7 separate regions of the Homo sapiens genome follow, and regions 1, 2, 3, 4, 5 and 6 are each linked to region 7. The links come from fine-mapping of genetic effects on gene expression. A gene starts in region 7. Each other region holds a variant in brackets. All regions are shown on one strand. Distances are from middle to middle. Region 1 has its middle 31 kb from the start of UGDH. Region 2 overlaps KLF3-AS1 (KLF3 antisense RNA 1). Region 3 overlaps KLF3 (KLF transcription factor 3). Region 4 overlaps KLF3-AS1 (KLF3 antisense RNA 1). Region 5 has its middle 140 kb from the start of LINC02513. Region 6 has its middle 25 kb from the start of LINC02278. Region 7 holds the start of KLF3-AS1 (KLF3 antisense RNA 1).

Region 1 (4,067 bases), 830 kb after region 7:
AGCCACTGCACCTGCCCTATTTCCTTATTTTTTGGGAAATAAAACTCCAATAGCCAACCTCCAAGATGGCTCCCAGTGATTATCACCTCCTGATATCCATGTCTCTTCAGACAGTGAATAGAGCTATCTGGTTAAACAATAGGATATTATAGAAATGATGGGGTATGATTTCTGAGGCTAGATAATAAAAGACATTGGAGGTTCTGTCTTGTCCTCTATTGGTTTTTTCACTCTTGAAGATGCCAACTTGCTATGCTGTGTCATGAGGATATTCAAGCAGTGCTATGAGGAGATCCAGTTGGCAAAGAACTGAGGCCTCCTGTCAACCGCCAGCACTAACTTGATAGTCATATGAGCAAGCCATCTTGGAAGACAATCTTCCAGCCCCAGTCAAGCCTTTTGATGACCAAAGCCCTGGTTGACATTTTGATTACAACCAGACTTTGACCCAGAACCATTTGGCTAAACTGTTCCTGAATTCCTGACCCACAGAAACTGAGATAACCCTGAAGTATTTAGGGGAAAAGGGAATCATGTCTCCAACTTACTCTCTTTTTTTTTTTTTTTTTTTTTTTTTATTGAGACAGAGTCTTGCTCTGTCACCCAGGCTAGAATGCAGTGGCACAATCTCAGCTCACTGCAACCTCTGCCTCCCGGGTTTGAATGATTCTCCTGCCTCAGTTTCCCAAGTAGCTGGGACTACAGGTGCGCACAACCATGCCCGGCTAATTTTTTGTATTTTTAGTAAAGATGAGGTTTTACCATGTTGTCCAGGTTGGTCTCAAACTCCTGACCTTAGCCTCCTAAAGTGCTGGGATTACAGGGATGAGCCACCGCACCTGGCCTTGCAACTTAATCTCAAATCATTCAGGAAAAAAATTTATATAAATATAAATTTTATGTGTGATGTATACAGGAAGGATAAAACAAAGCAAATATAATATTAATATTTAGTGAATAAGAAGGGTATACAGCATTTTTGTACCATTCTTTCAACTTTTCTGTAAATCTAAAATTATGTCAGAATTTAGGGTTTTCTTTTTTTAAAAACTAGCAACCTTTGATCTAGATCTACCCTTCACAGATATTTTGGTGTGTGTAGTGTAAAAATTTGTTTTTAAACATCGTGCCAACACTTATAAATTGAGAGATTTTATATAAAAATCCAGATTTTTACAAAAATTAGTCGGGCATGGTGGTGGGTGCCTGTAATCTCAGCTACTCAGGAGGCTGAAGCAGGAGAATAGCTTGAACCTGCGAGGTGAAGGTTGCAGTGAGCCAAGATTGCACCACTGCACTCCAGCCTGGGCAACAGAGATTCCGTCTCAAAAAACAAAAAACACCACACCACCAAATCCAGATTTTTAGCTTTTTCTTGAGAAATAGGAAGATAAGGCACCAGTGACAAGTACTGCATAACAAAGTATTGGCTTAAGTCTGCATGACAAGTATTGGCCTGATGCCTGGTTAATTCTTTGCATTTGAGAAGAATGACTTTTACCTGGGCACCTTTATGTATCCAGAGAAGCAGAATGACTAATATTAAAAGCTGGA[G/A]AGAAAAGTCACATAGTCTGTCCTGAATTCTGGTTCTGCCACTTATTAAGGTGTGACCCTGAGCAAGCTGCTAAATCTTCCGAGCCTTCTGCCTGTAGTCTGAATCACAGGATCAGAACTTACCTCAAAAGACTTAAATGAGTCCTAGAATAACATGGGGAAGTAAAAAATGAAATGAAATAAAGACTTATGTGAGGAACAGATGAGAAAATGCACCTAAAGGACTTTGCATAGTGCCTGTCCAAAATGTTCAGTGTTAATTACTGTCCTTCTAGTGATTCCAGAGCCTACACGTGGTTCTGGTGCAGTGGGACCAGCTTGTTATGGTGCTAACAGGAGTGCTCATTGCCTGCCAGTCACTGTGCCAAGAAGATCTTTGTGTAAACATTCATCTCATGTAATCTTTATAACAATTCTTCGAGTTGGAGATGGATTATCTGTTTTACAGATGGGAAAAATAAGGCTTTCAGGTAGCTTAGCCAAGAAGTCTTAAGTGGAATTGTAGGAGAGAAAATTGTAGGAGAGAGATTTTGTTTATCCTTTTGTATCTATGTGAATGTCTTTTTACCATGTCCATATATTATTTTCAATTTTTTTTTTTTTTTTTTTTGAGAAGGAGTTTCACTCTTGTTGCCCAGGTCGGAGTGCAATGGCATGATCTCGGCTCACCGTAATCTCCACCTCCCGGGTTCAAGCGATTCTCCTGTCTCAGCCCCCTGAGTAGCTGGGATTACAGGCATGCACCACTACACCCGGCTAATTTTGTATTTATAGTAGAGACGAGGTTTCTCCATGTTGGTCAGGCTGGTCTCGAACTCTTGACCTCAGGTGATCCACCCACCTCGGCCTCCCAAAGTGCTGGGATTACAGGCGTGAGCCACAGCGCCCGGCCTATTATTTTCAATTTTAAGTACAGTTAGTAATCTTACCAATATTCCTCTGCCCTACCAAAAATATATTAGCTAATAAAAAATTGAAACTTTTCCTGGTGGTAGGGATCAGGTATAAAAATTTAAATATATATATTTTTAAAAACTGAAAGTTTGTATGATTAAAAAAAACAACAATTGTCTTTAACTGGTTGAGGAGAGAAAAAAAGACTAACCACCTTCTTTCAACTTTTCACATGAAAGTCTCAAATTGCTGTTAAGTTACATGCCTAATTACTGAGTTTTTCCTCCCATTTCAAACAGCAAGTTTATCTGGCTCTATGAGCCCTCTTTTGCCCATTTTCCTCCATTTACCAGTAACTTTTTTCTTTTTTTTTTGAGACAGGGTCTCACTCTGTCATCCAGACTAGAGTGCAGTGGTACAATCTCGGCTCACTGCAGCCTTGACATCCTGGGCTCAAGTGATCTTCCCACCTCAGCCTCCCAGTTAGCTTGGACTACTGGCATGCACCACCACTCATGGCTAATTTTTTGTATTTTTTTAGAGACGAGGTTTCGCCATGTTGCCCAGGCTGGTCTTGAACTCCTGAGCTCAAGCATCCACCCACCTTGACCTCTCAAAGTGCCGGGATTACAGGCATGAGCCACCACACCCGGCCAGTAATTATATCTTACAATAATTGTTTACTTATCAGTTCCAGGCATTGAAACATCTTGCAATTTAAAACAAGTACCTATTTCTTTCTTTTCTTTTCTTTTCTTTTTTTTCTGAGACAGTTTCGCTCTTGTTGCCCAGGCTGGAGTGCAATGGCGCCATCTTGGCTCACTGCAACCTCTGCTCCCAGGTTCAAGTGATTCTCCTGCCTCAGCCTCCTGAGTAGCTGGGATTACAGGCGCGTGCCACTACGCCTGGCTAGTTTTTTTGTATTTTTAGTAGAGACGGGGTTTCACCATGTTGGCCAGGCTGGTCTCGAACTCCTAACCTCAGGTGATCCCCCACCTCAGCCTCCCAAAGTACAAGCATGAGCCACTGCACCCGGCACAAGTACCTATTTCTTTTTTTCTTCTTTTTGGAGCTCTTTCAAAGGATTTATTTGCTACAGAATTGCTTCAGTCCACCAATGAGATGAACTCAGGACTTCTTTGTTCAAAAGGATTTTGCTTATTGCTGTGTTTTTACAAATTCGGCAACATCCAAATAGCAATTCTTAGGCTGGGCACAGTGGCTTGAACCCCAGGAGGCAGAGGTTGCAGTGAGCCGAGATGGTGCCACTGCACTCCAGCCTGGCCAATAAAACAAGACTCTGTCTCAAAAAAAAAGAACAACAACAACAACAAAAGCAATTTTTTGCCAGCATTTGGCATATCTAGACAAGAGTAGAAAAAGTTTGAATCTATAGCATTAGATGTCTAAAAATAGAAAAAAAAACCATTTAAAAATTTAAAAATTCCTCATTTGGACAGGACAAGTGCCTAATTCTATCTGCTTTAGCATACATCTTCATACATCTTTGGACTTACAATGCCTTTACTAGAATATAAAATTACTAAGCAGAATACAATAATATTTTCAAGCAGAAATGTAAAGCAAATTCTAATTAATAAACTCATCCTCACTTCAAA
Region 2 (4,067 bases), 67 kb before region 7:
GAAATATAAAATATTTCACATTTTTATAATGTTATTAATGATGCAAAAACTATTTTGCGCTTACCTTTGAAATTCTCATTAATAATATTTTGATGAGAGCTGTGTGATTGAATATGCTTCACTATTTAAACCTCTATGAATAAAAGGTCTGATTTTACATTCATTTCTTTTGGTGCTTGGTTTTTTTTGTTTTTGTTTTTTTTGTTTTTTGTTTTTGAGACAGTCTCACTGTCGCCAGGCCGGAATGCAGTGGTGTGATCTTGGCTCACTGCAACCTCCACCTCCCAAGTTCAAGCTATTCTCTTGCCTCAGCCTCCTGCGTAGCTGGGACTGCAGGCACGCACCACCACGCCCAGCTAATTTTTGTATTTTTAGTAGAGACGGGGTTTCACCATGTTGGCCAGGATGGTCTCTACCTCTTGACCTCTTGATCCACCCGCCTCAGCCTCCCAAAGTGCTGGGATTATAGGCGTGAGCCACCATGCCTGGCCTGGTGCTTGGTTTTAATAGTTATCAGACATGGAAAAGATACTTCCAAAATACTTTAATTAAAACAAGAAAAGAACTTTATTGCTTATCTCACTAAAGTATGATACTTGTTTTTCAACCCTATCCATCAATTAAAGTTTCCAATAAAAATTGGATAGTAAATTTTTATCTTCCCTAATGTCAACTACTTGTTAATACAAACTTTAAAAAAGTTGATTCAAAGTCCCCTAGAACTGTTTATTTATCATTTTTAAAAGGTTAAAAATTCCATTTCCAAGTATGTAGATACGAGAGTTTTTAAAGAGGCATATTCACTGCATTTTTGGCAATAAAAATACATAACTATTGGAGATTTCCCAAATATCCATTTTCAAAATGCTCTACTCATAGCATTAAACATGGTTACTTCCTCATTTATTGTTAAAAGATCACATTTATCTGAATAATTTCACAATTTTTTGGCCAAATTATTTTGTTCATGGCTTTCTCTGGTAATGTAACTAAAGAAGTACTTATATAAGGGGCTAGAAAAATGTCAGCCCTGCCCTTTCTTGTTGTTCAATTAAATTTGTATTATTAGGGAAATCTCCAGAATCAACCTCTTTTTAAAAATATTTTCATAATCACTTACTCATTAATGGAGATATTTGGTTAAACCTAGATTATATAAGACTTCCTGTTCTAGGAATGGAGAACTAGGTAATTCATACCATCCCACCTACTGAGGACAATCAGCAAAACAAAATATACTTTAAAAATCTACTCCGGTGTGCTAGAGAGCTAACAAGATAGTGCAGAATTACTGGGTTAGTATCAGGTAAAGGATAGAGACCAAGGGAGTTGAGTCCGGCATGTAGGGCAGTTTTCTCTACAGTATATGCCAATACGGTATATGCCAATTTCTTTTTTCTTTTCTTTTCTTTTTTTTTTTTTTTTGAGACAGGGTCTCACTCTGTTGCCCAGGCTGGAATGCAGTGGCACGATCTCGGCTCACTGTAATCTCTGCCTACCGGGTTCAAGTGACCCTCCTGCCTCAGCCTCCCAAGCAGCTGGGATTATAGGCATGCACTACCGCACCCGGCTAATTTTTTGTATTTTTAGTAGAGACAGCCACCATGTTGGCCAGGCTGGTCTCGAGCTCCTGACCTCAAGTGATCCACCCGCCTCAGCCTCC[C/T]AAAGTGCTGAGGTTACAGGTGTGAGTCACTGTGCCTAGAAGCATATGCCAATTTCTAAAAGCAGGACTGAGAGGCCAAGTGGCTGAGCGGGAAGGTGGTTAAAAAGTGTCTCACAGAGCTAAGGCCAATTTTGGGGCCCAGCATCACCAAGCCTGGATAGCTCTGGTGAATCTCTTTGCATTTGGATGGGCCACTGAAGGACAGTACCCTAAAAACAATGATAAACCAAAAGAAGGTTCTAGAAACTCAGTTTCACAGTACCTGGAATTGAATTAACATGATCCCATAATGCTAAGGCCCCAAGTACCTAGCAGAAGTAAATATAAATTCACTTTGGAGAATGACAACATCATTATAGAATTCTAATTATGTCTACAAATAATGTTTTAAGTACAAATATCTGAATACAATAAAAGAAAAACAGAAAAACAAGACAAGACCACACAAATGAAAACCAAGAAATCACAGACATAGATCACAAAGGCTCAGAAATTAGAGTTTTTCAACTTAAAAAAAAAAGTGTATTGACTTCAAATAATACTATATTTAATTTGCTCAGAGAGACAAAAGTCAACCTTGAGACTTTTGGCGGAGAACTGAAAACTAATTTTTTAAAAGAGCCAGTGAAAATGCTAGAATTAAAAAAATAACAATTAAAACACAATAGCTTTCACATTTAATTACAAACAGATGAAGAGAGAATTTGTAGTATGGAAGAAAATATCCATACTACAAAGCTAAAAGACAAAGCTAAAAAAAAATTATAAGAAGGTTAAGGAAGCTGGTAAAGCACTTTCCAAACTTAAAAAAAAATCCAAAATGTCATAAAATGATATCTTTGTAAAATGTAATTTAAATGAATTATTAGAACAATGAAATAATAAAAAGACACTGAATATATGCCCAAATTTTTATTGGATTCAAAGGACATAAAATTACTCTGCCAGTTGGTTTCAGAATATTTATTCTCAATTTTGTACTTCTCTTTTTCCAAATCATGACACTGATATAAAAGATCCATGAAAAGTTCTGATATATATTTAACTGAAATACTAAACGAAGAGAGGTAATGGAACAGAAACATCATTTACGAGTAATCAGCTGAATCATTTCTAAAACTAATTAAATACATCAATTGATGGATTCAGGAAATCAAAAACTAGTTAAATTTAAAAACAAAAAAATGAACGAAGAAATTATCTTCAACACAACCAGAGAAAAAGATTGCCATCAATGGAACAATAATCAGACTCACAGCTTATTCCTCAACAGCAACATTCTGAGCCAAAAGACAATGGAACAATAGCTCCAAAATGCTGAAAAAAAATTACTGCCAACCCTGAATTCTGCTCTCAAGATATAAATATATGTCAAGAATGAAAGTAAAAAGAGACATGTTCAGACAAACCAAAACTGGGAGAGTTCATCCCCAGTAGACTTGAATTTATTTATCTACGTATATATAAATCTGTCTTCAGGCAAAAGGAAAAGGTTTCAGGTAGAAAGTCAGAAATGCAGAAAGGCATGATAACTACAAATGAATATTGACTATATAAAACCAAAAGTAAAATCTTGTGGAGAATTATATAGAAAATTATAATACACTGAAAAAGCATTAAGTCAGGAGAGACAGAGTGATAGTGTTTTACAGTACATGCATTCCCCAGAAGAGAAAAAACAACCAAATGATATTTTATTTTTATGTCAGATATACATATTGCAATATTTGGTGTAATCACCACAAGAATTTATAGGACTCAAATAACTTTTAAAAATTTTCAATCAATGCAAATGAAGGCAAGAAATGAAAAAAATGGAACATAGAACAAGCAGTACAAATTGAAAAGCTGAGCAAAATGGTAGATTTAAACCCCAAAATATCACAAATTACATAACATGTAAATATTTAAATTCAGTGATTAAAAGACAAAGGTTGTTATCTCGAATAACACTGAATTTGATATGCTACTTACAAAACACAAGACTAAAATATCAGAATTCTCAAAGATTTAACAATAATGTCAAACTAGACACTAAGGTTAAAAGCATTCCTAAAGACAAAGAAAGTGACCTCATGATGATGAAAATTAGATTTGTCAAGAACATACAACAATTCTAAATTTACATGTAACTAATAGCATAGATTCAAATTTTATTACTCTCTCTGAGATCTAATAGAATAATAAGACAAAAATCAGTTTACATTTACAGGAGTATACATTTGTAAACTTGACTTAATCGGTCTTCATAGAATACTGCACCCAACATCTGCAGAATACACACTTAGTTCATACACCAAAATTACAAAATGCTGGGCCATTAAGCAAGTCTCAACAAATTTCAAGAACTGAAATCAGAGTATGTTACCTGACCACAGGGGAATTGAGCTAGAAATCAATAACA
Region 3 (4,067 bases), 22 kb after region 7:
GGTGTGAACATCTGAGTACATGTTACAGACGGAAATAACTCTTATAGCAGATCAGTGGTTTTGTGGAGGTTTTTTTGTTTTGGTTTTTTGTGTTTTTTTTTTTTTTTTTTTTGGTTTGGTTTTGGTTTTGAGACAAGGTATTGCCCTGTTGCCCAGGCTGGAATGCAGTAGCAAGATCACTGCAACCTCAAACGCCTGGGTTCAAGCAATCCTCCTCCCTCAGCCTCCCCAGTAGCTGGGACTACAAGCAAGCACCACCATGCCCCGCTACATTTTTGTTTTTTTCTGTAGAGACAGGATCTCATTATGTTGCCCAGGCTGGTCTCAAACTCTCGGCCTTAAGATATCCTCCTGCCTCAGCCTCTCCAAGTGCTGGAGTTAAAAGTGTGAGCCACCATGCCTGGCCCAGCCCATTGTTTTAAGCCCTTAAGATCCCTAGTGGGGGCCAGAGGCAGAAGCGGGAAAGACCCATGTCTGTGTCTTGTCTTTGGACTGCTCTGTTCCAGGACACAGGGTCTCTTGGACTAAGCAGCATGCACAGAGGGCACTGGAGGTCCATCCGTGGCCAGAGGCACATTTTTTGCTTCATCAACATTTGTCTCTGATTTGGATATGGGGCCAGTACAGCCGTGCTTGTATGCATTGCTTTGATAGAACATAGGAACTGTCTGGAACAGAGCGGGGAAGACTGTTACCAGGTTGTACCTGCCCAGAGCACACACCCTGCCGTGTCAGTCCCTACACGGCACCAGATTGTTGGAAGCTGATTGCAAAAGCTTGTGTGTGCCACCCAAATAAAGTGAACCAGCTTGAGGGACCACATGTCTTCACCCTTTTGTGAGGCAGTTGGGCTGGAAACAGTTAATTATCTGCCCAGAGTTGGGTGTCTGTGTCCAAATGTGTCTCTCCCCACAGTTAGTCTTGTACCTTACAATAATCGCACATCCAATAGAGGGAATGAGGGCATTCATTTGAGAACAGACTTATCAGCAAACTGCATAATGTTGATAAAGCTTAGCTTTATGTGTGGCTTTTTCTGTCTTAATGGCTTGAGAAACCTGAGAATATTATTAGATTTGCAAATCTGGAGGTTCTAAATTCCTACTCTCCCAAAACTCACCCCATGCATAGAAAAATCCAGCAATGACAGCAATAAAACTGTGTCCTCATTTTGCTTCCCATTTAGCTGCCAATAACTATTGGCATTAAAATCTAGGTCATAGGGAGGTCTTGGAAGAACAGGGCTGAAAATAAGGGAGAAGCTACATTTTCGTCAATAGAAACAATGCTGCCTCCCATTTCCTAAAGTTTTTTCCTAGTACCAGAACCATTGCCCTTTGGAGAATTATATAAAGCACATTAGACTTTAGGACTAGGCGAAATCATTCTCCTTCCTATATTTAATTACTCCCTGAAACCCTCCAGTGTACATGATTTATAATGGATTTATTTTGTTGTGTTGTTAATGAACCTTGTGCCTCTTTTAATAATACCCATCTTAATATTTAAATTTAAATCTATTTAATACTTAATGTTGCTATCTTTTGGATCTCTTGCGTTGGTACTGTGCGTGCCTGGCTTTAAAGAAAGGTAGAGAATCTTTTCTTCATTTGATCCTTGATCTATAACTCAAAGCTGTTTTTATGCATTTTGTGTTTTCTGATTTTATATCCTTCATGTTCTTGTTTTTAAGCAGTATTAGTAGTGAAAACTGGCTGCGCGTGGTGGCTCATGTCTGTAATCCTAGAACTTTGGGAGGTTGAGGCAGGCAGATCACTTGAGCCCAAGAGTACGAGACCAGCCTGGACAACATGACAAAACCCAGTCTCTACAAAAAAATACAAAAATTAGCGAGGCGTGGTGTCATGTGCCTGTAGTTCCACTTCCTCTGGAGGCTGAGTTGGGAGAATCATATGAGCCCAGGAGGTCGAGGCTGCAGTGAGCTATGATCATACCACTGCACTCCAGCCTGAGTAACAGTGAGACCCTATCT[CA/C]AAAAAAAAAAAAAAAAAAAGAAAAGAAAATTCTTTTTCCCTCCTTTAAATAGACCTTTAGTATCTTTATTTTTTATCTCTGTCATTTAGAGCATTGCTATTCAAAAGGTAGCCTAAGTTCCCTTGGTCCACTCCCCGGTAATTCAAAATTTGCATTTTAACGAGTGCTCCAGGGAGATGGATGTGCACAGTAAAGTTTGAGAAACTCTGGTTGGGAGCAGTAGAGCCCGTGACAGTGAGCATCTCTTGTATAAGCAGGGACAAGAAGGGATTTCCAGGATGGCATGTGTATAAGCTCGTTGTGTAGGTTATCCCATAACCTTGATCTTAACCATGAGGACCTGACATCCAAACCAGATAAAGATAAACACAGTTATGTGATAAAGTTTCACTGACTGACTCCTCCCTAACAGGCTGCTCTGCAGGCCTGGAGCAGGGACTGGGCATCTGGAATTTTAAAAACAACACAGATGATTCCAATGCATAACCAGCCGAGGATTCGCCCAGACCAAGCCCAGAGAGGAAAGAGGGTGATCTCAGTAGGAATCCCTATCAAAACCACTGCTGCCCCACAGTCATAACTCACAATAGTGGCCACCAGAGGGGCCAAGGAGACCCAGAAATTAATAGTGCATTTACGCTGTTTAATTACAAGGCACCATTGGGTTTTCTTGGTTGCATCCCAAGTTAGTATTGCCTCTAACTCTTAAACACATAGGGTTTTAGAGCTGGAAGAGAAGCACAATATGTTGTTTATCACTGTCACTGTCAGACATTCAAGTACAAAGAATTTTCTGCAGGTAAGCAGGCTTGACATGCAAAATTTCAGTTTCCCTAAAATGCCTAGTAAAGATGATGGTTTATGTTGAGTTTAATTTTTTTAAATTAAAAATTAGGTTGCATTCTACAAAGAAAATTTACAACAAAATGTTAGTTAAGGAATAGAAGTAATTTAGGTGAACTCCATGGTCAAGGATAGTGCCCATTGTGTGAAATTATGATGACTGGTTTGTATTTAAAGCTGGCAGATGAAAGTTAGGTTATCCTGATATTTAAAGAGAGAAAGGTGTTTGAAGATAAATGAGGTCAGTTGTGGACCAGATCTTGGGAAGGAAACAGACTCTTCTGTCTCTTCTGCACTCCCTTGTTTGTGCCCCAGCCTCATTTGATGAGTGGGTAGCAGGGTATAGAGGAGAGAACACAGGGCCTCAGCTTGTGTGAATGACTTTGAGCTCCACATTTCCTTATGTGAGTCATATCACGTTAGCTGTTTCTTATAGTTCCGTGTCATCCACAGACTTGCCATTCAAGTCTACAGCTTCATTCAGATTCTGAATAAGAACACTGAGCAAGTTAGGGCCAGGGACATCATTGCCGCAGTGAGGGTGGCCTTCAGTACAAAGGTGTGTATGGTGACTGACCCCCTCCTGGTTTGCCTGAGACTGTAGAGTTTCATGGGATGTGGGACTTTCAGTGCTGAAACTAGCACAGTTCCACGCTGACTAGGATTGTTGGCCAGTCCTAGGCATGGATTGTACAGCTGCTGAAGCCCATCAAATGAAAGGTACTGCCTATCCTGCAGCCCCATTCTTGCTTATTATACACAAGTATGATGAGAAATCAATGTCCTGCTGAAGTTGAAGACACTACTTATCCTGAGAAAGAGCTGTCCTGCCGAAGTTAGACATCAAAGCTAGAGAGCATTTCCTGCTCATCAAGAAACCCCACCAGAAAAGCAACCAGGTTGGTTTGGCTTGACTGGTTCTTGTGATGCCCACCTCTGACTCCTAATGATAATGGCCCCCAAGCCTGTGCTATCACCTGTCTTAGAATTTTGCCAGGTATCGGCCTTAATGTTTGACACAGGAATCATCTTAGGATTAAATTTCAGATTTTTCATCTGCAGTAGTGACCACATTGATCTTAGTTTTAATATTTTTGAGACCGCCTCTCATAGCATTTTTAATGTTGAGACCACCTCTTTGAGCATTTTTTTAAGGTCACATATATATCGAAATCTAAACTATTTTGTAAAGCCCATGTAATTGTTAAGTGCCTTGTTAGCATATTTTT
Region 4 (4,067 bases), 35 kb before region 7:
CCAACTCACCTTCCCTCCCTCTCTGGCACACACACAAGTGGGCACATACACAGGCATACACAGTCACAATATAATCAAGCTCCTACTATCTTCCTTTTTCAAGAAGACTACTTTGGGGCTGGAAATACTAAGGATGCTATTCTTTCTAGATGTTAGGCCAACAGGCTGCAAACCTGGAAAATCCCATGGCCAATATTCCTACTCTGAGCTAAGATGCAGTTGGGTCTAGAGAAAAAAAGAAATATTGGCTGGGCATGGTGTCTCACGCCTGTAATCCCAGCACTTTGGGAAGCCGAGACGGGCAGATCACCTGAAGTCGGGAGTTCGAAACCAGCCTGGCCAACACAGTGAAACCCCATCTCTACTAAAAATACAAAAATTAGCTGGGTGTAGTGGCGTGCGCCTGTAATCCCAGCTACTTGGGAGGCTGAGACAGGAGAATCACTTGAACCCACGAGGCGGAAGTTGCAGTGAGCTGAGATCATACCACTGCACTCTAGCCTGGGAGACAGAGTGAGACTCTATCTCAAAAAAAAAAAAAAGAAAGAAATATTTAGACAATTGCTTCTTCAAATGTCTTCTAGATCTTTGAGTTTATGGTGCTTGACCCTATTGATACTTAATTAGAACCTCCAATAAGAACTTGCAGGGGAGCACGATGCTGAAAGTGAAAATGACAGCTTCCCGTTGGACTATGTGCTGATTTACAGCAGTTCAGTCTCAGAAAAGGAAAACTACATAAAAATAGAAGATATAACAGTGAAATCAAAAAATTAAAACTTAGAATCTGCATATACTGAACTTTCATTGGCTGTCAAATTATATTAATCAACAATGTCAAGTTGAAAAAAAGCAAATGAAAAACAAATAAGGAACATTATTTGTACAAAGCATTGAGCTAGTCAAATTTTATCACTTTTTAGTTATATAAGTACAATATAATTGTGGTAAATAAAATTAGAAAATTTAGACAAGAACATAAAAAATAAAAATGCAGTTGACCCTTGAACAGCACAGGGATTCGGGGTACCTATCCCGCACAAATCCCGCAGTCAGAATTCTGTAGATAACTTTCAATTTCCCAAAAACTTAATTACTGCCAGCCTACTGCTGACCAGTAGCCTTACCAATAACATAAACCATCAATTAATACATATTTTGTATGTTATATGTATTACATGCTGTATTCTTACAATAAAGTAAGCTAGAGAAAATGAATTGTTACAAAGAAAATCATAAAGAAGAGAATATATATTTACTATTCATTCAGTGGCAATGGATCAACATAAAAGTCTTCATCTTTGGCCGAGTGTGGTGGCCCGCGCCTGTAATCCCAGCACTTTGGGAGGCCAAGGTGGGTGGATCACGAGGTCAGGAGTTTGAGACCAGCCTGGCCAACATGTCGAAACCCCATCTCTACTAAAAATACAAAAATTAGCTAGGTGTGGTGGCACGTGCCTGTAGTCCCAGCTACTCAGGAGGCTGAGGTTGCAGTGAGCCAAGACCACTTCATTGCACTCCAGCCTAGGAGATAGAGTGAGACTCCGCTCAAAAAATAAAATTAAAAAAACTCGTCATCTTCATAGTCTTGATGTTGAACAGGTTGAGGAAAAGGAAGAAGTGGGGTTGGTCTTGCTGCCTCAAGGGCAACAGAGGAGGAAGAAAATCCA[T/C]GCGTAAGTGGGCCTGCAGAGTTCAAGCCCATGTTGCTCAAGGGTCCACTGTACAGCCATTTTAATAACCAAAGTACTTTTCATTAAGTTACTGTAACAAAATGTATTTAACCAATTTCCTGTTATTGGACATTTATTTCTGATGTTTAACACAAATGCTTTAATGAACAGCTTTATACATACATCTCTGCATAATGTATCTCTCATTATTTTCTTATGATAAGCTCTTAGAAGTGGAATTTCTCAGTTGAACAGTATTCAGATGTTAAAAAGCAGAATTACAGCAATAGCCAAATTCAGTCATTTAAATTCTTTTTTAAGGTGCTTACAGCATCTTCAAACTTAGTAAGCATTCAAAAATTGAAAGAGAACAGTCTTTATTTTCATATCAAAGTCAATAATAACATTACATATATTTAATATATAACTTCAGAACTCTGACATTTCTTAAAACCTCACCAAATACTGACAGACAGTAATACCATATGGTTACAGACGCTTCTGAGAGAGCAAGACTGTTTCCAATTGCAATACAACAAATATGTTAACTGACTGGTTCATTTCTGAATTTAAAATGCTGAACAGAAAACCAATCACACCAAATATAGACAATATTTTTTAAAGTACACAACTGCACTACATACCATAGCAGGAGGACACAGGACTGAAACATGTATTTCTTTGTTTGGTCTATGGGCAAAGTCATCATCTCTCTGGATCTCAGTTCTGAGGGTAAAGACACAAGAGCTAGGGTTTCCAGACTTTTAGAATTAATAGACCAATTAAACTAAAAAAAAAAAAAATCAAGAAGGAACTAACAACTAATGCAGGGTTACCAAGGAAATAAAAACACAACACCACCACATACTAGCATATCATCCATAAATAACCTTAAAATGGGAGGAGGGCAACATACTCTCTGAATAAGAAACCATCATTAAATGTAATGCATTTATCCTGATTTTTATTTTTTTGTCTGCTCCATTGCTCATGTTTTTCTCATTTTGCCCTGGAGTGTGAAAACTGTGCCTCAGACTTGTACTAGTCCCCCAACTCTTGATTGAAAACAACCTCCCTAGATAACTTCTAAATCCTTTCCAGATTATAAAATGCTGTGTTTTGTGATTCCAAATTTTAATTTAGGTTCTATGTAAAGAAGTCATTTGCAAGGCCTTTTTTTTTTTTTTTTTTTGAAATGGAGTCTCACTCTGTCGCCCAGGCTGGAGTGCAGTGGCACGATCTCGGCTCACTGCAACCTCTGCCTCCCAGGTTCAAGCCATTCTCCTGCCTCAGCCTCCCGAGTAGATGGGACTACAGGCGCCTGCAACCACCCTCGGCTAATTTTTTGTATTTTTAGTACAGACGGGGTTTCACCATGTTAGCCAGGATGATCTCGATCTCCTGACCCCGTGATCGGCCCGCCTTGGCCTCCCAAAGTGCTGGGATTACAGGCGTGAGCCACCACACCCAGCCTTTGCAAGGACTTTTAAATTCAGTCTCTCTTACTTCTTTGAGGCTGCCAATGAGTGGATCCCATGAAGTGGGGATCGGGGGTGGATGCTTTCTGAGGGAGGGCCTCCTGGGGCCAGGCAGTGAGCCATGCATGCAATAAGGACACAGAGACACAAAGCACAGCCTCTGCCTTCAGGGGGCTGTCACCTAGGGAGCAACAGGAGACTAATACCCAGGAGGACACAAGTGATAGAACACACAAGGTACGCCTGGGGTACCTGGGAGCATTTAGGAGCAGCATTGTACCCAAACAGGTAGAGAAGGTGAGTGGGCCAGATCTTCTGGATAAGGTGACACTTACACTGAGGCTTGGCAGCTGAGGATGCCACTACAGGCCACGAGCATCCTTTGTAAAAGCGAAAGCGTGTCAGAAGTCATGGAGAATCCTGGCCGGGCGCGGTGGCTCATGCCTGTAATCCCAGCACTTTGGGAGGTCGGGGCAGGCGGATCACTTAAGGCTAGGAGTTCAAGACCAGCCTGACCAACATGGCAATACTCCGTCTCTACTAAAAAACTAGCTGGGTCTGGTGGCGCACACCTGTCCTCCCAGCTACTCGGGAGGCTGAGGCACAAGAATCACTTAAACCCGGGAGGAGGAGGTTGCAGTGAGCCGAGATCGCGCCACTGCACTCCAGCCTGGGCGACAGAGCACCTGGAGAACCCCACAACCTAGTGAGTTCCAGTGAGAACACAGTCTATGGGTTGGAGGGTTGCAGAAGATACTGAAGAGGCAGACACATTGCCAGATCAAGAAAACCTGCAGTGCCACATTCAGGAGTTTGGACTTGATCACCAAAACACTGGGATGTCACTGAACTATTTTAATCAGGGGAGGAGACTGAGGCACATCTCACAGTTTGCCTCTTCCCCCAGCTCAAATTTTAA
Region 5 (4,067 bases), 440 kb before region 7:
AAGCTACATAAGAATCCAATATTGAAAACTCTTAGATTTTACTTTGTTGGAAACAGGAGCCAATAATGTTTGTGGATCTGATGATTAGAAAGTCCTCTCAGGTCTTGGAAAACATGACCAGATCCTGTGCTTGTAGACTCATGTGTTTATGATACCTCTATTTGGTGCCACTCCCTGAAGTTGTACCCCAATCCCACCCACACCTCCTTTCTTAAAGGCAGTCTTTTCCACATGTTTTGAGGCCTGGAGAACAAAGGTGATGCGAGCTTAAAAAAAAATTAAACCAAAATTATTTCTCACCCAGTTACATGCTACAAACCAGCTTTCCTAGGTTTGCTCACACAAACTCCAAAAAAGTAATGGGGTAAGGGGAAGAGGTTTACAAGGTCAGAAGAAAACATCGAACCACATGAGACTTGATTCACTTCCATGGAACTGGTTTTGCTCCCCTGCTACAATATCCTGTAAAATTGTAAATAAAGCATTGGAACTAATAAATCAATCACAAAGGGACCTTCCTGCTGCCAACCCATCCTCTGGAGAATGAAATCCTGAGGGCAGATTTAGGGAATTGAAATCAGAATCTGTGCAGTTGCCAAAGTGCCCTGCCTTGGCCTGCCAAGTTAAATGTGAACTTTTGTGAACTTTCTTTGCAGCAGTTAGAATCAGCTTCTTTTGTGCAATGCAATTCCAATTTATGGCATTATTGAAGATAGGGTTTCAGGGAAATACACCAGGCCAGTGCATTTGTTTGGCCCATGAAGCTTAATTGCCAATGTTAAATCTATGGCCCTGGCAATCTTCTCTGATTAAAAAGCCACTGGGAGCCCAGTTTGGGGCCACTCTTCTTTATTACTGTTCTTCTGTAGAAAGTCGAAGTATTCATCCCATCGTGGGAGTTAAAAGCCCAAGTCAATTATTAATTGCATTTGTTTTCTTTCTGAATTAACCCATGTGACCCGTGGCATTTGCACCTTGTGTTAACCATTAGACACACAAATGAGCCCTGTATTTATTTGGGTGGCAGAGTTCTAATGCCTGTTGTTTACTTTATAGTGAGGGAACTGTGCAATCAGTAGGACTTTTCCAGGAAGAGAAACAGGGGTCCTGCCTTCCGTCCTCTGGTTTGAGGAAGCAGCTCTGTTTGCCTCTCTTTGCTCCCTTACTCAGGCTGCTCACAGCGAAGCCTTTCAGTGTCTGATATAAAAGTCCCTTTGATTGTGCGGTGGCCACAGGGTCTGGCTGTGGGTCTGGGTGGCTTGCAGGCGCATCACTAACCAAAACTAGATCCAGCAGAGGCGGCTTCACACTTCTCATGAATTCCGGCATCTTTTTTGTGTTAAAGATCTACTTTTCTTACAGCAAATATTATGTATGTTTTTACTCTTTGAACTCTTTCCATACTTAATGGAGGTGGAGGCGGGGCAGTTTGTAGATGTACTCTTGCCAAGTTATTAGTTTTAGATAAAGTCATCTCAGGTTTGAGCAAGAAAATGAAAGCCTCTGATTATCAGATTCTCTGGAACTTCTCTTCCTGCCAGAAACAATGTTGAGTCTGGCCCTCTCTCTCCCAGCTGCTTTCATTGTATTGCCTGAAATGGTATTTTTTAACTGTTTCTAATGCCAGTGAAACGAGGCATTAGAGGAGGAGAAGGGGAGTGGTTGGGTGGCA[C/T]GCTTAGTTCATAATTGTCTGGGTTAGGAAAGAATCTCTTAATGAGAATTGGATGGGGAATTAGGATCCTGTGGTGGGGGGCAGGGGTTTGTATTTGTGTGGGAAAGGAGTTAAAGACTTTGTTTTATTTCATTGCTTCAATTTGCTTTGGGTTGTTATTTAGTTTCTTTTGAGATTTACATAACATTAAATGAGGATGTGGCTTTTTAAAATGTTTTTTGAAAATGAGCCTGTCTTAATCCATTCAGGCTACTAGCATAGAATGCTATAAACTAGGTAGCTTATGAACATAGAAACTTATTTCTGACAGCTCTTGAGGCTGAGAAGTCAAAGATCATGTTTCCGGCAGGTTCCATGTCTGGTGAGGTTCTCCTTCCTGGTTCACAGATGGTTGTCCTTACGTGAGGGAAGGGTAATGGAGCTCTCTGGGGTCTATCTTTTATATGGGCACTAATCTCATTCATGAAGGCCCCATCCTCATGATCTCATCACCTTTCAAAAGACCCACCTTCAAATACAATCATGAAAGGAACAGGTTTCCACATATGACTTTTGGGGGAACACAAATATTCCGTCTATAGCATTCTGCCTCTAACCCCTCAAAATTCATGTTCTTCTCTCATGCAAAACACATTCATCTCATCCCAACAACCCCCAAAGTCTTAATTTGTTCCAGTATTACCTAAAAAATCTAAAGTCCAAAGTCTCGTCTAAATATCACTTAAATCAGATATGGGTAAGACTCATCCTGAGGTGAATTCCTCTCCAGCTGTGACCTGTGAACCCAAACAAGTCATGTGCTTTCAAAATACAATGGTGGGACAGGCACGGGATAGACATTCACACTGCAAAAGGGAGAAACAGGAAAGAAGAAGGGAGTGAAAGATCCCAGACAAGTCGAAAGCCCAGTGGAATAAATGACATTAAACTCTAAGGCTTGAGAACAACCTTCTGCCTTCTGGGTCCCCTGGGGCTGGGGTCCTGCCTCTGCACTTCTCACAGGTTGGAGTCCCATGTCTGTGGCTCTCCCAAAGAGGGAGGCTTTTATATATCCATCTTGTATGTATTCCTGGAATGCCAGATTCTTTTCTTTCTTTTTTTTCTTTTTTTGAGACAGAGTCTTGCTCTGTCCCCCAGGCTAGAAGGCTGGAGTGCAGTGGTGCAATCTTGGCTCACTGCAACTTCTGCCTCTCAGGTTCAAGCAATTCTCATGCCTCAGCCTCCCGAGTAGCTGGGATTACAGACATGCACCACTAGTCCTGGCTAAGTTTCATATTTTTAGTAGAGATGGGGCTTCACCAAGTTAGCCAGGGTGGTCTCAAACTCCTGACTTCAAATAATCTTCCTTGAATCACCTTGGCCTCCCAAACTGGGGTTACAGGTGTGATCCACCATGCCCAGCCTTGGAATGCCAGATTCTTATATCCAATTGCCTATTTGCCATCTTTCCCTGGATGTCTGGTAGGCATCTTAAACTTAATATATACAAACCAAACTCATGACCTTGCCCAGGGCAAATTGGATTCTCTCCTGTTTGTCCTATTTCAATAAATGGCAGATCCAGCTTCCAGTTGTTCAGGCCAATTACCTTAGCATCATCTTGATGCCTCTTTTTCTTTCAAACCCCACATACAATCCATCAGCTCTACCTTTATAATATATTCTGAATCCGACTCCTCATCTCTTCCCATCTCTGCCACTACTCTCCCACCTCCAGCCCCTGCCATCTTTGCCTGGACTATTGCAATAGTATCTGCCGGCTCTCCCTGCTGTGTTCTTGGCCTGCTCCCCATGTTCTCTTCTAAATAGCCAAAGGTTTTAAAAGGTCAGCCAAATCATGCCATCCCCTGCTCAAAACCTTCCAGTGGCTTCCAAAATCTCTCTGAATGCAACCAGAAGCTCTTTCTATTGCCTTGCAAACTGTACCTGATTTACCCACTTGCCTTCTTGATCTCATCTCCTATTCTCCCCTCCACTCTGACCTTTTTGCTGCTTTTTGTTTGTTTGTTTGTTTTGTTTTTGTTTTGTTTTTGAGACGGAGTCCCGCTCTGTCGCCCAGGCTGGAGTGCAGTGGAGCGATCTCAGCTCACTGCAACCTGTGCCTCCCGGGTTCAAGTGATTCTCATTCCTCAGCCTCCCAAGTAGCTCGGATTACAGGCGTGCACCATCACTCCTGGCTAATTTTTATATTTTTAGTAGAGACGAGGGTTTCACCATGTTGGCCAGGCTGGTCTCGAGCTTCTGACCTCAAGTGATCCACCCGCCTGGACCTCCCAATGTGCTGGGATTACAGGCATGAGCCACTGCACCCGGCCTCTTTGCTGTTTCTTAAACATGTTGGCTGTGCGTCTGCCTCAAGTCTCACATTATACTTTGTGTTCATCTTCCTGGAATA
Region 6 (4,067 bases), 76 kb before region 7:
CTGTTGATGGAGACCAACTCACTATTTGAGGAGGAAGCTTACTTCAATCTTTCAGCCAGGTCTGCTTTTGGTCCAGCTAACCACAGCCACCCACAGATTCCTGAGGATACTTTCAAGCTAAATGCAAACTCATTTTTCCTGAGCAGGCCTTCTACACAAAATCTTTCTCTGCTTTCCTACCCTGGTAAACTGGGCTGGGCCTTGAAGTAACTGTGGGACCCCACCACCACCTTCACTTCCATACTAGATCAGAGCCAGCCTCAGCAATCAACTTATGTGGGCTTTCTCCTGGATTCCACTCTGCTTTCACTCAAAGACCAAAAACCTCTACTCTACACACAATACCCCTTGCTCCAAAACTCAGCACCCAGAATGCCTCAGAGGAGGGAGAGTAAGTGAGGGACTTTCATAACCATTTCCCTTCATTCCTCCCCCAAATTTCTAGCTCCCAGGCAAGGAGAGGGGGTGGATAAGGCTTTGTTCTAAAAGAACCCCATTGAGTATTTGATGAATATCAGGGCCCCTCCCTCAGGAGGGTGGAAAGGAGAATGGAGAGTGGGTGGCCAACAGACAGTATTTCTCTTTTTCTGGCCAATAATCCAGAAAATGGATAATTCCCGCAAACATAATCAAGTTAGTATTCCATGTGTAATTTGGCAGTAGACTTGCTAGTCAACCAATGACTTAAATTGCATGTGGGATTTTTAAAGGAAAATTTACTTAGTCATTTTAATAAGAATATTCCTTGGAGAAAAATTTTTCAAAGAAAACCAATAAGGCTAAGGTCAAAATATTATCTCCAGGTCTGTGTCATATAAGCTGTCCAGAGTACATTATCTCCCCTTTGATCCAGCTACCTTACCCACACATCCACACATTCTCTCTCTCTCTCTCTCTCTCTCTTTCTCTGTCCCCCCTCTCTTTCTCTCTGTCTGCTATACACACAAATATACACACTCAACCATCTCAACCATACACATGCATCCATTCATATAGACACTCATGCACTTCCTCCTGGTATCTCCCAGTTACCCAGGAATTCTCCTGGCCCTTCTCCTGGATGTTGTCCTGCTCTTCATGTGCAGACACTTGCATAATGGCAGCAATGGAGTTGCTGAGGGCCAACCAAGTAGACTGTGGGTATCAGTCCCTATGCATAAGTTGGTTTCTCAGCTCCACCACTTAATATCTATGTGACTTCAGGCAAATTAACTTCTCTGAGCCTCTGTTTCTGTGTCTGAAATTGGCAAAGTAATACCTATCTCATGCTAAATATTGAGCAACAACTATGCAACCAGCATTGTTCTGGTGCTGGGGGTACAGCAATAAAAAGGATGAAATTCCTGCTCTTGGGAAGCTTATCTTCTAATGGGGAGGAAATGGGTCTCTACCAAAAAAAGATGATTTCAGATAAAAACTATTAAAAATAGAACACAATAATATGATAGAAATTTAAGGGGAAGATGTGGTAGGCAGCTTCAAAGATGGCCACTAATGATCCTCGCCTCCTGATATTCATCCCCTTGTGTGTTCCTCTTCATGTTGAGTGGGCTAACCCAGGTAACCAATAAGATGTAGCCACCATTGGCATCTATATCTACTTTGTGTTTAAAAATCAACTGGTAATTCTGAAACACTGTAGAATGGATAAAAATTATTTTGTGATCATAACTCTTTGTTGAACTAGAGTATTTTTGCAGCATTCCTTGTCATCAGAAACATGGTTAAAATTTAAAACTAGAAGCAGCAGAATAAGGCAATGGGAGGGTGTTATGTCCAAGGACAGGTCATGAAAGACATTGCAGCTACCAAATCACTCTCTTGGGTCACTCATTCTTGGGAAACGAACAGCCACGTTGAGAGAACACTCAAGTAATTTAACAGACAGTCCTAGGGTGAGGTGGTGATGAATGAAGCCTCTTGCCCATAGCCAGCACCAAGCTTGCCAATGGCCAGAGCCAACCTATCATGTTGAAAGTGATCGTCCAACCCTGGTCAAGGCTTCCGAAGACTGTAGCCTGCAGATTCATAAGAGACGTCAAGCCAGAACCACCCAGCCAAGTTGCTTCACAATCCCTGGCCCATAGAAACTATGAGATGATACATTTTATTATTGTTTTAAGCCATGAAGAGTTGAAGTAATTTGTTACACAGCAATAGATAATGTATACAGGGAGCTTTGGATTGGATGAGGGAAGGCTTCAGTAAGCTTCATTAAACTTGGGTTATTGTGAGGATTAACTAAAAAAGTAAAAAAAGTCCTTAGCAAAGGGTCAGGTTTTTAGTCCATGTGTAGTAAACCTCAGCTATTGTAATTTTTATGCTTTGTG[G/A]TAAGATTAATCTTCATCCAACACCCTCATATTGCAGATGAGGACCTTGGGACCTAGGAACTTCAGACATTTGCCCATATCCTACAAAGCAAGTATTGGCCAAGCTAAGCTGGAGGCTAGGTCTTCTAGGTTCTCCTAGGCCCTAAGCCACACTTCTTTCTTATTCTACACTCTGTTGCTTCCCTCCTTGCATGAAAAGCTGCTGGAACAAGAATCTGACAAATCTGCACAGAGATTCAGACTCCGCTGAGTCTGCTCCATGCCCGTAGACATGGAGACAGAGCAAGGGACAGAGAGAAGATGGATGTGGTATATGTGGGTCCCGCGACTCCACAGTTGCCCTCAAGGACTTCTTCAGAAGCCAATAGCCATGGCCAGGAGAACATTTCTGGATTTCCATGGAATGCTCTCTTCCTTGCTAATTGCTGTTAGGAGCTCAACAGCTGTTTTTAATATTTTGATGCTAATCTCCTGAAGGGCCATGGAGAGAAGGAAAGAGAGAAAGGCAGATTGTCTGCAAAGCCTAGGATCCCATCGGTACCTCAGCTCCAAAGAGTTTAGCACAGGCTGGTTCCCATGTGCTGCTGTCCTCATTCTTCCCTGGGGTCAAGGATGCAGCCAGCTTTCTTCTCTTGGTGGCCACCACACCCATTTTCTCCCTGGGCGTTCTGTCCTTCCCTCCACCCCTACGACCAGCTGTGGAGTTGTACGTGACCCATGCCCCTCCCTCCTTCCTTACATCCTCTCAAAGATGAGCTCACAGGCTCTGCTTGTTATAAGAGATTCATTGCTAGTCACTATAGAGAAACAGACAACAGACAATGAAAATAACTGAAGTGGGAAAAATTGCAAAACAGTAGAATCTTTTGATGTGACCATGCCACTCCCTTACTTAAAACCTCTGGGTTACTCTGTATCCCTACAGAGCAAATACAGAGATCTTCAAAGAGGCACAGAAAGTTCTTTGAGATCTTGCCTGAGTTCAAATCCTTACTCTGTGCTTGACAGCTGTGTGCCCATGAGCAAGTTATTTAATCTCTTTGTGCCTCATTTGCTTCTAATGTAAAAAGGTAATGATAATATAGGTTTGCTGTTAGAATTATTTAAATGAGTTAACATATAGAAAACCTTAGATCCACATCTGGCATATATCAAGTGTTCAATAAATGGCATCTATCCCAATGATGATGATGATGATGACACCCCTGCAAACTTACCCATTACTTCCTGCTTGAAAAGCCCTCACATATGTATCATGCTATTCATCACCTCCATGTTTTCTTGTTCTGTTTTCCTGTACCCAGACAGCCTTCACTTTCCCTCAAGCCTGGTTCACATCCAGGTCTATAGAGATGTGAAGTTTGCTACTCAAGCCAGCCTTCTTTGGAAAGCATTCAATGCCCATCCCATCATCACCACAGGCTGTCTCTGGGACCCCTCGTCTGTGCTCCTGTAGCATCCTATGTGTATCTCTATCATTATCTAAGAATATGTGTGTGTGTTTGAATGATCTATTAGCTGTGTCACAACCTACCCCAATACCTACTGGGTTCAGATGACAACCATTTTATTTGTTCACAATTCTATGGATCAAGAATTTAGGCAAGGCTTGGCTGGTCAGTTCTTCTGCCCCACAAGGCATTGGCTTAGGTTCATTCACTCAGCTGCATTCAGCTAGAGTCTAGGTCCATGAAGTGTTCACTCACATGCCCAGTGCCTCAGGTTCTTCTCACACTC
Region 7 (4,067 bases):
ATGGGTCAACTTAAAGGGCCTTTAAAACATCTTGAAGCAATAATAAGCCATACACTGAAGCAGGGGCGGTTTTAAACATTACACAGAACTTAAAACAATCGAACGAATTCGTCCTTTGTTCTTTTTATTACATTAATTATTACATTAATACTGTTTAAAAAGAAACTCAAAAGGCATTAAACTTAGGTACCAATCTACACAAAGTCCTCGAAGGGGCCTGGCTTGGACCGAACGCGCTTTTGTGCCGCCCCGCTCGCTCGCAGCACCCTGAAGGCCACTGAGCTTAGGGCGCTAGGTCCCTAGAAGCGACTTGAAATGAGGGGGTCGCCAGGCCAGGCCCTCGCTCTGCAGGGGAGGATCCGACCAAAGTTTGCCAAGTTTCCAGGCAAGCCCAACTGCGCAAATGCCGCTTTTTAGCTCCAGCGGCAGGCCTGGCCCGTGGGAGTTTTGCCCCAGGGGTCTCCGGGCCTTCAAAGAAAAGTCCCACGAGGTGGGGGGCGCCGCCTGGGCCGCCGGCCAGGGGGACCCGTCGCCCCAGGGCACAAAGAAAGAGCGCGCCTACAGGGTGTCCCCTGACCCCGGCGACTCGGGGCCAGGGAGGCTCGGCGCGCCCCAGCGGCCGCTCTTCCCCTCCCGAACCCGCCCGGCCCACTCGCTCCTGCACCGCGGCCGCCTCGGCTCGGCTTTTCTCTTGCAGTGAGCTGAGTGCGCTCAGCCGAGGAGGGGCCGCGCCGCGCCGCGCCGGCCGCGGGGCCCAGCCCTTCCCGCCGCGCCCGGGGCCGCCCTTCCCGCTGGAGCCGGCTGATCGATGGCCCTGGCAGCCCGCGCCCCCCGCCTCGGCTCGCCCGCGAGCCCGGCTGTGTGTTTTGGAAGCAGCGCAGCGGGCCGCAGCCGTGTGACGCCCGGAGCGGGCAGCGCCGCCCTTCCTTCCCCCCGGGCTCGGGCGGCGGCGCGGCGGCTGGGCCGGGCGGGAGGGCTGGCGGGGCGCGGACTCCGGGGAGGAGGGCGCGGGGAGGGGACGCGGGCGGGGACGCGGGCGGGGGGCGGAGGCCGCGCCGCGCACGCCCAGCCCCACGGCCGCGCCGCGCCTCGTGGGACAGGTTGGGCCGGCGGGGCGGCGCCCGGCTCCGGGGAATAATGAGTGTCTGTCAGGCCGTCCCCGGGTGACTGGGCGGGGCGGGGCGGAGGCGGCGCGGGAGGCGGGGGTGGCGGGGGAAGGGCGCAGGGCGGGGTGCGTGTTTGCGCGAGTGACTCGGCCGACCCCTCCGGCGGCTGCCTCCACCCAAGTGGGTGGGGACCCGCCCAGCCCGGGCGGCCGCGGCGGCTCCCTCTCCCCTCCCTGACCCTCCCACCCCGGGTCCCAGCCTCTACTTACCCCGCCAGCCCCGGGAGGCTCGCAGAGCGAGCGGCGCCGGCGTCATGTGACTGCCCGGAGTTGGTGCCAGGAGCCAGAGGGGAGCCAGGAGCGGAGCCGCGCGGAGCCGGGGCCCGAGCCGGAGCGCAGCGAGAGCGCCCGCCGCACGCGCGCCCGTCCCCGTCCCCTGCGGCCGCCAACGCCGCCCGGACTGGAGCCCTGACATTGCTGCGCTCGGGGGGCTCCAGGCAGCCCGTATCGGGGCCTTTATTTCTCGTCGGCGGCGCCCTGCACCGCGCCTCGCAAAGTAAGTCCCGTCTCCCTCACCTCTGCTCCGCACCCTGGTCCCTGCCGCCCCCCTCCTCGGCCAGTCTGGTTTCATTTTTTCTCCTGGAGGGGGCCGCGGGGAATGGGTCGGGGGTGCAGCGCTGGTGTTGGGGGGGGCGCCTGCGGGCTTGGGAAAGTGTGGCGGCTACACTTAGCCGGGGTGGGGGCGGAGAGCAAGCAAGGAGGAGGGGGTCACGGGTTCGCGGTGAAAAGTGAGGGGTTGAGGCGAGGCACCGTGCGGACCCCGGGTGCGGGGGAGCGGGGCTGGCAGCGCCCGCCGCCGTCCCGGGCAGGGCGCGGGCGGGGGCTCACCTGTGTGGTCCCCGGCCTCCTCCCGCCCGCTCACGATTCCCTCCAAAGCCCCAGAAATCTCCGTGCTCTCCGCGTGTGGCAACGTTGTTTGGAGAAAGGTAGCGCCGCGGCCGCGCGCTCCTGCTCCTCCCCCTCCCGGTGCCCCCCCACCACCACCACAACCCAGGCTCCCGCGTCCTTCCCCTCCCCTCCCTCCGCCCGCGCCCCCCGCCGCCCCCCTCCCAGGACACGGCGCGCGGCCGCTCGCCCGCCACAGCAAACTTGGAGCAGTCTCCCGGCCCTCTGGAAAGAAACTTAGGGCAATTGGGATTGGAGGCAGCATCCCATTCTCGGTTCTGGAGCCCAGGAGCTGCCAGGGCGTCTGGATCCTCCGGGGCAGGAGAAATGAGCTGGTCGGGTTTGGAGAGTCTTCCTGGGGGCATGGAGAGAACCTGCCGCAGTGCCTGGAGCAAGGATTGCAGCGTGGCTGAAGGCGGAAGACGCCTTAGGCAACTGCCTGCAGCCGAGCCTGATGGGGACCCAGGGACAGATCCCTGGATCAGGACCCATGGGACCTACCTAACATTTCCAAGTGGCTTTCTTAGAGATGGCAGATGAGATCTGGAATTGTCATATTCATTTTTTTGGGCAGATAGCTACTGACAAGGAGAAGCACTTTTCTGGTTTAAATTTTATAGCAGTATACAATAATACTAGAAGAATGTGAATGAGACTTATTTTTAATAAGTCAAGTTAAACGGAAATTGGAAATTGCTCACCTTCTTGTATTTCACTAAAATAAACATTTTACACTTAACCACTGAATTTCTTACTCAGAATTTATGTTTCCATTAATATCACCCAAGACATTTTAAATATATTGATTATATTCTCACAAGAGTCTGGTATATGGGAAAAAGTATGAAGTGGTATTCTGACAAGTACCTGAAATGTGCCAGCAAAATCAAGTGGGGAATAGGCCAGTTGTTCATTATAGGTTTTTCCACACAGCAGTTTTGTGCTATCCTTTTCTGTACGAATTTGAGGAGCATTTTTATAAGAGAAATTCATCTGGATGATCTGCCTCACCCTAGGGAAGAAGACTTGCTTTTAGGGGAAAAAACAATCTGCTAGCATTAATATCTACAAATTTTTTGGAGTTAGTAATAGTGTTTAAGGAAAGTGTCCACGAGTGATTTCTTCTGGTTTGAAAAGAGGTATGTTAGTTGACCTTAGGCTGTTAATAGAAACCTGAAATTAGATGTTCGATTAAATTAAACTCCCTAGAGAAACTGGTATCTTCATTTCTGCAGTCAGTGGGCTTTGCTGCAGAACTATTTATTAGAAGAAAAAAACCTAATGTACTATCGGTAAGTTCAATGATGATACATTGTAAAGAACATTTAGCTTGCATGAAAGGGAATGCAAGTACAAAAATCTCAACATGGGAATAACAAAGAAAAGTAACTGCTTAGACCACAAAACCTTGTCAGGTACAAAACGACAACAGAGTTTTGCAGAAAGCTATTGTTTTATTCACTGCAAAGTTTCTAAATTAAAACCCAATCTTCTTGTTGCTATGGGCACAGTGATGCTCTTTTTTTCCTTTTTTTTTCTTTTTTTTTTTCCTTACCTGTACTTAGTCTGCACACACCACATTCTTAAATCTCTGATAACGTAAGCTTGAGTTAAACAGTCCTGGCTAACAAAGTAAAGAGAAATAATGGGAAAGGAACTGTGAATGGATTTTACTATCTTAAAAATAACCCAAAGGGAAAATAGACATTTTAGAATGACTTCTAGAAATTAGTACTCTGGTGTACAGATTGCATAATAATTTTTAGATAAATGTCAGGAACAGAATCACATTCTTAAAAGGCGAATTTCTATAAACGTGTGTATATGTTGAACAGATGAGCAGCTCTGCAAAGATGTGTATAACTGCATTTGAAAAAGACAGTGAAAATTTTGGGTTACTGTAGATGTCCCACAGTCTGTCTTGGAATTTAGTTCTGTGACTAAAGGAGGCTTACAGTTGCTCCAATTTTGGTTCTGTGGGGTACCCCAATTGTAATCTGAATTCCTAACAGCAGTG

Evidence for each region. PIP is the estimated chance that this variant, and not a neighbour inherited with it, causes the effect.
Region 1: its variant is fine-mapped to the expression of KLF3-AS1 in liver (GTEx, PIP 0.98).
Region 2: its variant is fine-mapped to the expression of KLF3-AS1 in whole blood (TOPMed, PIP above 0.99).
Region 3: its variant is fine-mapped to the expression of KLF3-AS1 in memory regulatory T cells (Schmiedel 2018, PIP 0.95). The same link has a PIP of 0.9 or more in Th2 cells, naive CD8 T cells and regulatory T cells.
Region 4: its variant is fine-mapped to the expression of KLF3-AS1 in esophagus muscle (GTEx, PIP 0.94). The same link has a PIP of 0.9 or more in pituitary.
Region 5: its variant is fine-mapped to the expression of KLF3-AS1 in gastroesophageal junction (GTEx, PIP above 0.99).
Region 6: its variant is fine-mapped to the expression of KLF3-AS1 in tibial nerve (GTEx, PIP above 0.99).

The regions. Positions count from the first base shown.
Region 1 is chr4:39,494,133-39,498,199 of GRCh38, forward strand. No RefSeq gene overlaps it. Among named protein-coding and RNA genes, the nearest start is that of UGDH, 31 kb to the right of the region's middle. The variant G/A (reference allele first, on the strand shown) is at 1,555.
Region 2 is chr4:38,595,770-38,599,836 of GRCh38, forward strand. It overlaps KLF3-AS1 (KLF3 antisense RNA 1), which reads right to left. Exons shown (of 16, transcript NR_171644.1): 16 at 3,324-4,067. Among named protein-coding and RNA genes, the nearest start is that of LINC02278, 34 kb to the left of the region's middle. The variant C/T (reference allele first, on the strand shown) is at 1,664.
Region 3 is chr4:38,684,450-38,688,516 of GRCh38, forward strand. All of the region lies in intron 2 of KLF3 (KLF transcription factor 3), which reads left to right. Among named protein-coding and RNA genes, the nearest start is that of KLF3-AS1, 22 kb to the left of the region's middle. RefSeq lists enhancers at 2,764-2,933, 3,682-3,851 and cis regulatory regions at 2,849, 3,767. The variant CA/C (reference allele first, on the strand shown) is at 1,994.
Region 4 is chr4:38,628,186-38,632,252 of GRCh38, forward strand. KLF3-AS1 (KLF3 antisense RNA 1) reads right to left here. Exons shown (of 16, transcript NR_171644.1): 3 at 2,315-2,396. Among named protein-coding and RNA genes, the nearest start is that of KLF3, 34 kb to the right of the region's middle. The variant T/C (reference allele first, on the strand shown) is at 1,671.
Region 5 is chr4:38,222,912-38,226,978 of GRCh38, forward strand. No RefSeq gene overlaps it. Among named protein-coding and RNA genes, the nearest start is that of LINC02513, 140 kb to the right of the region's middle. The variant C/T (reference allele first, on the strand shown) is at 1,673.
Region 6 is chr4:38,587,221-38,591,287 of GRCh38, forward strand. No RefSeq gene overlaps it. Among named protein-coding and RNA genes, the nearest start is that of LINC02278, 25 kb to the left of the region's middle. The variant G/A (reference allele first, on the strand shown) is at 2,331.
Region 7 is chr4:38,662,801-38,666,867 of GRCh38, forward strand. It overlaps KLF3-AS1 (KLF3 antisense RNA 1), which reads right to left and starts at 2,093. Exons shown (of 16, transcript NR_171644.1): 1 at 1,994-2,093. It overlaps KLF3 (KLF transcription factor 3), which reads left to right and starts at 1,399. Exons shown (of 6, transcript NM_016531.6): 1 at 1,399-1,661. RefSeq lists silencers at 300-819, 850-1,119, 1,130-1,729, 1,790-2,139, a promoter at 859-1,661 and an enhancer at 3,623-4,067.